Regions from separate parts of the Homo sapiens genome. Here region 2 is linked to region 1. Evidence: fine-mapped expression QTL. A gene starts in region 1. The other region holds a variant in brackets. All regions are shown on one strand. Distances are between the middles of the regions.

Evidence for each region. PIP is the estimated chance that this variant, and not a neighbour inherited with it, causes the effect.
Region 2: its variant is the best candidate, but not a certain one, in a credible set for the expression of ANAPC2 in whole blood (TOPMed, PIP 0.54).

What each region holds. Positions count from the first base shown.
Region 1 is chr9:137,186,704-137,191,085 of GRCh38, reverse strand. It overlaps ANAPC2 (anaphase promoting complex subunit 2), which reads left to right and starts at 2,526. Exons shown (of 13, transcript NM_013366.4): 1 at 2,526-2,670; 2 at 2,983-3,605. The coding sequence starts at 2,554. It overlaps SSNA1 (SS nuclear autoantigen 1), which reads right to left and starts at 2,410. Exons shown (of 3, transcript NM_003731.3): 1 at 2,308-2,410; 2 at 1,821-2,020; 3 at 720-1,279. The coding sequence starts at 2,359. The coding sequence ends at 1,172. RefSeq lists a silencer at 2,019-2,368 and an enhancer at 2,399-2,618.
Region 2 is chr9:137,121,898-137,126,279 of GRCh38, reverse strand. LOC124902353 (small nucleolar RNA U13) reads left to right here and starts at 2,672; the gene lies at 2,672-2,771. The variant G/A (reference allele first, on the strand shown) is at 2,594.

The sequences.
Region 1 (4,382 bases):
AAACCTAAGAGCAAAGAGATAAAGAGATGCTGTCTGGCCAAACTCCGGCGGAAGGAGAGTTTGGTGTATTTCCCTGGTCGGGTTAGGCCCAGCTCTTTTCTGGACCCTCTGGATCAACACATGCCTCCCAAATCGGCCCAGTCCTCGGGCCATGCTTGGTTGCTGCAGGGACAAAACAGAGGCCCCAGGGCACATGGAAGGATGGAAGTGGCCAGTGCTTGGTGTGCGGCCAGGGAAAGGTGGGCAGCAGGGCCTGGTGGCAGCAGTGGTGTCATCAGGCCAAGCAAAACTTGCAACTGAGGAACCGACGGGGGTGGGGGGTGTGAACTCCCCCCAGTCCTTGCTGAGAGGGACCTGAATCTGAGGCAGCTGCTGGATATGCTTGGCATCCCCAGCTGTCTCTCTGGGCTGGGTCCTATGCTGGCCACCAGGGTGTGGCAGAGAACAGGACGAGCAAGCAGAGCTCCTGAGAGGAGGGTGAGCCGTGGGCCAGTCAGGGGAAGAGGACCGGCGGCCCTGCTGGGGAGGGCTCAGGGTGGGGCTGGCCTGGGGAGGGTGGGCACCCTCAGCGGTGTCCCTGAGGCTAGTGGGGCAGTCACAGGGAGGCCACTCCAGACCCTCCTCCCTCCTCTCCCAAGGGGGAGCCTCAGGCTCTGGCTCTGCAGGTGTCTGGCAGCCCCATGCTGTTGATACGGGCAAGCAGCAGGCTGGCACGGATCTTTACAAAGATAATCTTTATTCATAATCACAGGCCACAGGGGTGAGACCTGAGGTTTGGGTTCTGTGGTGAAGGAGAACCCCTGTCCTCCTGTCCCTTGCCCTGGGCCTCTGCTGGCTGAGGAGGGACAAGGTGAGGGGGCCCCCATGGTGCTCAGACAACCAGAGCCTCCCTGGCAGGGCAGGAGTGTGGGTGCCACAGAGACAAGCCCCTTGCAGAGCTGACCTGGAGCCCACCATCCCCATAGCCTGTGTGAGCATGAAGCGAGGACCCCCGGGTGGGCTGTGCCCTGGGCTTGTCACTGATGCCAGTGGAGGCTGGCACCTGCCCCTCTCGGCACCTGAGACAGTGAGGGAAGGTAGCTGCTGCCGTGAAGAACAAAGATGCTCTGAGCACACACTTGCTGGGGCTGAGCTGAGGGGCACACGGAGGCAGGCCCTGCCCGTGGTCTGGTCAGCTGTCCCTGCCGCCGCTACTTTTCTGGTCTGGGGCTGTAGCCTTGGTCAGGTTCCCAGCTTCCCTCTTGAGAACGCTGAGCAAAGTCTGGGAGCTCTCCAGGATCTGGGGCCAGAGAAGTGAGAAGGTTGTTAATGTTCACCTGTTGGTAAGGTCCTAAGCCCCAGCTGTCCTCACACTCAGGTGCTGGGACCTGGCTGGGGGTGCTGTAGCCAAGGGATCCTGTGTGGGGGAAGGCGGAAGCCCAAGGGGACTGGCAGACGGGGTGGCAGGGCCCTCTTCCCTCCGGAATCTGACCCAAAACACTTCCTCTCCACCCTCAAAGCCAGGCTGGGTTAGCACTGGCCCGTGCTGGGTGCTCTGCCCAAGACCTGGCTCTTCACACTGAGCAGAAATAACCACATGGCTAGCGAGAACCGGATAAAGACCAGGACCCAGGATGCCCCAGGCCCCACAGACAGCCCCACAGTCACTCCCACAGCAGCCTGGGTTCCTCAATGGGCCTGGCCACGCTGCCCCTGCCCGAAATGCCAGCGAGGCACAGACTGCCCACAGCCGGGAGCCCCAGCCGGTCCTGACGCCTTGCCGTGGCAACACCCCTGCCGTGCCTATCCCCTGATGCTCGGCCTGGCCTCCCGAGCTCCACCTTGAGGTAGGCGGCCTCCGTCTCCGCGATGGTCCGGTCGAACTCGTTGCGAGAGGCAATCTTGCGTGCCAGGTTCTCGTTGACGCGGGCCAGCTTCTCTGTCAGCTGCCTCACCTCATTCTGCAGCCGCTGCTTCTCGTCCTCCTCCTCCTGGATCTGCCGGCACAGCTCCTCCCGCTTCTGGCACAGCTCCTCTATGCCTGGGGGCCGGGAGGGGCGGCGCTGTGGGCCCAGGGCAGGAGCGCGGCGGCGGAGGGCGGGCCTCCTTCCACCCGAGGAAGCCAGAGTCAGGCACCACCCCCGAGCGCCCGGCGCGGGGCCTGCGAGCCAGCGAGGGCTCGGGCCACGGACACCCGGCCTCCGGCACGGAGGGCTCTGCTCAGCCGCGCGATGCCCGCAGCGAGGCGGGTCCAGGGGCACCCCGCTGCGAGCCGGGAACCCGGCCCTGCGGCCCTCCCGACCTCCCCGTCCCGGCTGCGCCGCTCACACTTGACCAGCTCGTTGTTGTAGTTCTGCAGCGCCGCGCCCTGCTGGGTCATGGTCAACGCCGCCCGGGGCCCCACCACCCCAACCGCCGCGGAAGCAGCGCTGTCCGCGCCTGCGCACGACTCCCCCACGGCGCGCCGAACTAGCGCGTCATCGCTGAGCGCCTTGTGCGCGTCATGGCTGCGCGTGCAGACGTGCGTCATCGCCGCGCGCCGCGCCGAGCGAATCTCGGAGTCGGTGGGTGCAGATGGCGGCGGCAGTTGTGGTGGCGGAGGGGGACAGCGACTCCCGGCCCGGACAGGAGTTGTTAGTGGCCTGGAACACCGTGAGCACCGGCCTGGTGCCGCCGGCTGCGCTGGGGCTGGTGAGGCCTGGGAAGAGAGGGGCGGCCCCGCGCGGAGTTTCCGGGACCGTACGCGCTTTGGGGCCGCTACCCTCGGGTTCATACGGCTCTGTCCATCATCCGCCTCTGTCCTGTCCTGCCATTTTCCACCACCTTTCCGTTTCGTTTCGTTCAGCTCCGCTGACAGCCCTTCCATAGCTTCGGCCCAACGTCCGGGCAGCACGGACAGGGGGCAGCGGAGTTTTTGCAGCCTCCCCCTCAGCTTCTTCCCTTCCCCGCCTCTCCCCACCTCTATGTTGTGTTCCCCTCGCCTCACGGTTTTCTGCACCCCAGGTGTCTTCCCGGACCAGCGGTGCAGTCCCGCCAAAGGAAGAGGAGCTCCGGGCGGCGGTGGAGGTTCTGAGGGGCCACGGGCTACACTCGGTCCTGGAGGAGTGGTTCGTGGAGGTGCTGCAGAACGATCTGCAGGCCAACATCTCCCCTGAGTTCTGGAATGCCATCTCCCAATGCGAGAACTCTGCGGATGAGCCCCAGTGCCTTTTGCTACTCCTTGACGCTTTTGGCCTGCTGGAGAGCCGCCTGGATCCCTACCTGCGTAGCCTAGAGCTGCTGGAGAAATGGACTCGCCTGGGCTTGCTGATGGGCACTGGTGCTCAGGGGCTGCGAGAAGAAGTCCACACTATGTTGCGCGGAGTCTTGTTCTTTAGCACCCCCAGAACCTTCCAAGAGATGATCCAGCGTCTGTATGGGTGCTTCTTGAGAGTCTATATGCAGAGTAAGAGGAAGGGGGAAGGGGGCACAGACCCGGAACTGGAAGGGGAGCTGGACAGCCGGTATGCCCGTCGCCGGTACTACCGGCTCCTGCAGAGCCCGCTGTGTGCAGGGTGCAGCAGTGACAAGCAACAGTGCTGGTGTCGCCAGGCTCTGGAGCAGTTCCATCAGCTCAGCCAGGTCTTGTGAGTAGTCTGTCCCGATGGCCATGCCCTTGCTCCTTCTGGTTCCCCGCTGCTCCCCTGGGTCCAGCTGGCCTCAGCAGAAAGCTGGTGAGCCGTCCTGATAACCAGGAACATGACAGAGAGAGAGTCCCAGGGATTCCTGTGCAGCGTGTCCTGGACACAGGTGTCTCTCTTCTGTCACTCACCTTCAGTCCCACAGATTCATGCCTTGACCCTGGTAAGGCCCTATGTGGCTTGTGTCTGCAGCAGCAAATTTCTTAGCAACTCCAAACTTCCTGGACTCTGCAGAATTCCACTGTGCCTTTTGTCGATCCTGGGGAGGAATGATTCTCACCCTCGTCGACATTCCTTGCCCTGTAATTGTGAACAGAAGCTTGCTGCTGCTTCTCTCCAGGAAGATCAGGTCACTGTGAGGGCAAGCAGTCTCTTGTTAGTTTGGAGAGGAGAGGGGTTTGTTGTGAGAGACAGGTCCTGTTGTAGTTCTCTAGCAATTGTCATACCCTTGGCCATTTGTGGTGGTTTTGTCACATTGAACGGGGGTGTAGCCATGCAGCTACTTGAGAGGTCTTAGGTGGACTAAAGGTGGACTAAAGGAGTGCTCCTTTTGCTGGCAGGGGTCAGGGAGACCGTGAAGGGCTTCTGTTGGGCTCATCCCTGCAAAAGTTACACGGCAACTTTTCTCATCCTCCTCTTGAGTCCTTTTGTCACTGTAGACCAGAGACTGCACTGAAAGGCACAAACAGTGGCATCTGTACCTCTGCGGCCAGGGTAGCAGTG
Region 2 (4,382 bases), 65 kb after region 1:
AAGTTCTACAATAATAGTTGTAGATGTCACTCAACCTATTTCAGTAATGGAAAACGTATCTAGGTGGCAGATCAACAAGGAAATAGAGGGTCTGGACAGTGCTAAAATCAACTAGAAAGGACGGACACAGAACACTCACCCAACAACAGCAGAACACACAGTTTTTAAGCACACGGAACATCCTCCAGGACAGACCATGTGTTAGGCCACATATTAAAATATATTAAAAGAAGTTTTAATATATATATATATATATATTTTTTTTTTTTTTTTTTTTTTTTTGCTTTCTTTGTTGCCCTGGCTAGAGTGCAGTGGCACGATCTCGGCTCACCGCAACCTCCACCTCCTGGGTTGAAGTGATTCTCCTGCCTCAGCCTCCTGAGTAGCTGGGATTATAGGCTCCCGCCACCATGCCTGGCTAATTTTTGTATTTTTAGTAGAGACGGGGTTTCACCATCTAGGCCAGGCTGGTCTCAAACTCCTGACCTCAGGTGATCTGCCTGCCTCAGCCTCCCAAAGTCCTGGGATTACAAGCATGAGCCACCGCACCTGGCCTTAAGATATTTTCTTTTTTTTTTTTTCTTTTTGAGACAGAGTCTTACTTTGTCACCCAGGCTGGAGCGCAGTAGTGCTATCTCGGCTCACTGCAACCTCCACCTGCTGGGTTCAAGTGATTCTCATGCCTCAGCCTCCAGAGTAGCTGGGACTATAGGCATGTGCCACCATGCCCAGCTAATGTTTGTAGTTTTAATAGAGATGGCGTTTCACCATGTTGACCAGGCTGGTCTCGAACTCCCAACCTCAGGTGATCTACCTATCTCAAACTCCCAAAGTACTGGGATTACAGGCATGAGCCACTGCGCCTGGCCTATATTTTCATTTTCAAAGTTTTTTTTTTTTTTTTTTTAAGACAGAGTTTCACTCTTATTGTCCAGGCTAGAGTGCAATGGCGTGATCTCGACTCACTGCAACCTCCGCCTCCCAGGTTCAAGCGATTCTCCTGCCTCAGCCTCCCGAGTACCTGGGATTACAGGCATGTTCCACCATGCCTGGCTAATTTTTTTTTTAATTAATTAATTTTTTTTGAGACGGAGTCTCGCTCTGTCACCCAGGCTGGAGTGCAGTGGCGCGATCTCAGCTCACTGCAAGCTCCGCCTCCCGGGTTCACACCATTCTCCTGCCTCAGCCTCTCCGAGTACCTGGGATTACAGGCGCCGGCCACCACGGCTAATTTTTTATATTTTTAGTAGAGATGGGGTTTCACCATGGTCTCGATCTCCTGACCTCGTGATCCACCCGCCTCGGCCTCCCAAAGTGCTGGGATTACAAGTGTGAGCCACCGCGCCCAGCCTAATTTTTTTATTTTTTAATTTTTTTTGAGACAGAATCTAGTTCTGTCATCCAGGCTGGAGTGCAGTGGCGCGATCTCGGCTCACTGCAACCTCCACCTCCTGGGTTCAAGCTATTCTCCTTTCTCAACCTCCCAAGTAGCTAGGATTATAGGCGCCCACCACCACGCCTGGCTAATTTTTGTATTTTTAGTAGAGTCGGGTTTTCACTGTGTTGGCCAGGCTGGTCTCAAACTCCTGACCTCGTGATCCACCCGCTTTGGCCTCCCAAAGTGCTGGGATTACAAGCATGAGCCACAGCACCTGGCCTAATTTTTGTATTTTTAGTAGAGACGGGGTTTCGCCATGTTGGTTAGGCTGGTCCTGACTTCAGGTGATCTGCCCACCTCGGCCTCCCAAAGTGCTGGGATTGCAGGCATGAGCCACCATGCCCAGCCTCAAAGGTTGAAATAATACAGTATGTATATACACACACGTGGGTGCACATGTGTGTGTGTCTGTCTGCCTCCTAGGCCGGAGTGCAGTTACATGATCCATAGCTCACTGTAGCCTTGAACTCCTGGGCTCAAGTGATCCTCCCATCTCAGCCTCCCAAATAGCTAGGACTACAGGTGCACACCACCACACCTGGCTAATTTTAATTTGTAGAGATGGGATCTCACTATGTTGCCCAGGTGGGTCCTGAACTCCTTTCCTCAAATGAGCCTCCCACCTGGGGCTCCCAAAGCACTGGGATTGTAGGTGTGAGTTAGTGTGTCCATCCATCAAAGTATGTTTTTCAGCCACAATGGAATGACATTAGAAATGAGTAACAGGAGGCCAGGTGTGGTGACTCACGCCTGTAAACCCCAGCACTTTGGGAGGCTGAGGCGGGCAGATCACCTGAGGTCATGAGTTCAAGACCAGCCTGGCCAACATAGTGAAACCTCCTTTCTACTAAAAATACAAAAATTAGCCAGGCATGGTGATGCGTGCCTGTAATCCCAGCTACTCGGGAGGCTGAGGCAGGAGAATCGCTTGAATTCAGGAGGCAGAGGTTGCAGTGAGCTGAGATCGCCTCACTGCACTCCAGCCTGGGCAACAAAAGCGAAACGCTGTCTCAAAAAAAAAAAAAAAAAGAAAGAAACGAGTAACAGGAAAAGCTGGAAAATTTGCAAATCTGTGGCAATTAAACAACATACTCTTAACCAATGGGTCAAAGAAGAACTACAAGGGGAGGTAGAAAATACTTAGAGATGAATGAA[G/A]ACGAGAGCAGAAACTACCAGAATGTATGGGATGGAGCCAGGTTGTGCTCAGGTGGAAATTAACGTCTGTAAACACTGATTTTTTGTAGTTCCTCAGTGTGATGATTTGGTTTCACACTCATGTGAGATGTGCTTTTCTCAAACCTTCTTACAAAGTCAGCGCCTTACCCATCTGACCCCCAAAAACACAGTATGGTCCCCCAGTTCCACTTGCCGTTTCTCTTGTCCTGACAGAAACGTAGGGTTCCTTGACCGCTCTGTGACCTAGCCAGCTGCGTGGTTTTTTTTTTTTTTTTTTTTTTTTGAGACGGTGTCTCGCTCTGTTGCCCAGTCTGGAGTGCAGTGGTGCAATCTCAGCTCACTGCAACCTCTGCCTCCTGGGTTCAAGCAGTTCTCCTGCCTCAGACTCCCAAGTAGCTGGGACTACAGGCGCCCGCCACCATGCTCGGCTAATTTTTGTATTTTTAGTAGAGTCGGGGTTTCACTATGTTGGCCAGGCTGGTTTTGAACTCCTGACTGGGTGATCCACCCGCCTCAGCCTCCCAAAGTGTTGGGATTACAGGCGTGAGCCACCGCGCTGGCCCCAGCTGCGTGTTTTTTCCACATGCTTTTAATCCCAGCTACTCGGGAGGCTGAGGTAGGAGAATCACTTGAATCCAGGAAGCTGAGGTTGCAGTGAGCCGAGACTGAGCCACTGCACTCCAGCCTGGGTGACAGAGGTAGATTCTGTTTCAAAAAAAAAAAAAAAAAAAAAAAAGAACAAGATGCCTGCTTCACCACTGCTATTAAATATTGTACTGAAAGTCCTGCCCAGGGGCAATTACATGAGAAAAAGAAATAAGAGGCATTCAAATGGAAAAGAAGGAAGTAGAACTATCTCTATTCACAGATAACATGATCCTACATATAGAAAATACCAAAGAATACACAAGAAAGCTACTAGAGTTAGTAAACAAATTCAGTAAAGTTGCAGGGCGTAGTATCAACAAGAAAATCAGTTGCATTTCTGTGCACCTGCAACGAACAGTCCAAAAAGGAAATGAAGAAAACGATTCTATTTATAACAACATCTAAAAAGTAAAATGCCAAGAAATAAATTTAACCAAGGAGGTGAAATACTTGCACACTGAAAACTACAACACATTGCTGAAAGAAATTAAAGAAAACCTGAATAAGTGCAAAGGACCCCTCGTTCGCGAGTAGGAAGACAGCATTGTTAAGATGTTAATACTTCCCTAAGCGATCCAAAACAATGTTGAAAAAGAACAAAGTTGGGCCAGACGCGGTGGCTCACCCGTGTAATCCCAGCACTTTGGGAGGCCAACACGGGCGGATTACGAGGTCAGGAGTTCAAGACTATAGGGTCCAGCCCTACTGTGCCTGTGTGTTTTTCTCTTCATGTGCAGAGATGAGAGATCGTAGAAATAAAGACACAAGACAAAGAGATGGAAGAAAAGACAGCTGGGCCCAGGGGACCACTACCACCAAGGCATGGAGACCGGTAGTGGCCCCGAATGCCTGGCTGCACTGTTATTCATTCGATACAAGGCAAGGGGGCAGGTAAGAAGTGTGAGTCGTCTCCAGCGATACGTAAGGTCATGTGAGTCACGTGTCCACCGGACAGGGGGCCCTTCCCTATTTGGTAGCCGAGGCGGAGAGAGAATGGGGACAGCTTATGTCATTATTTCTTCTATGTATTTCTCGGAGAGATCAAAGACTTTAATACTTTCACTAATTCTGCTACTGCTATCTAGAAGGCACAGCCAGGTGTACAGGGCGGAACACGAAA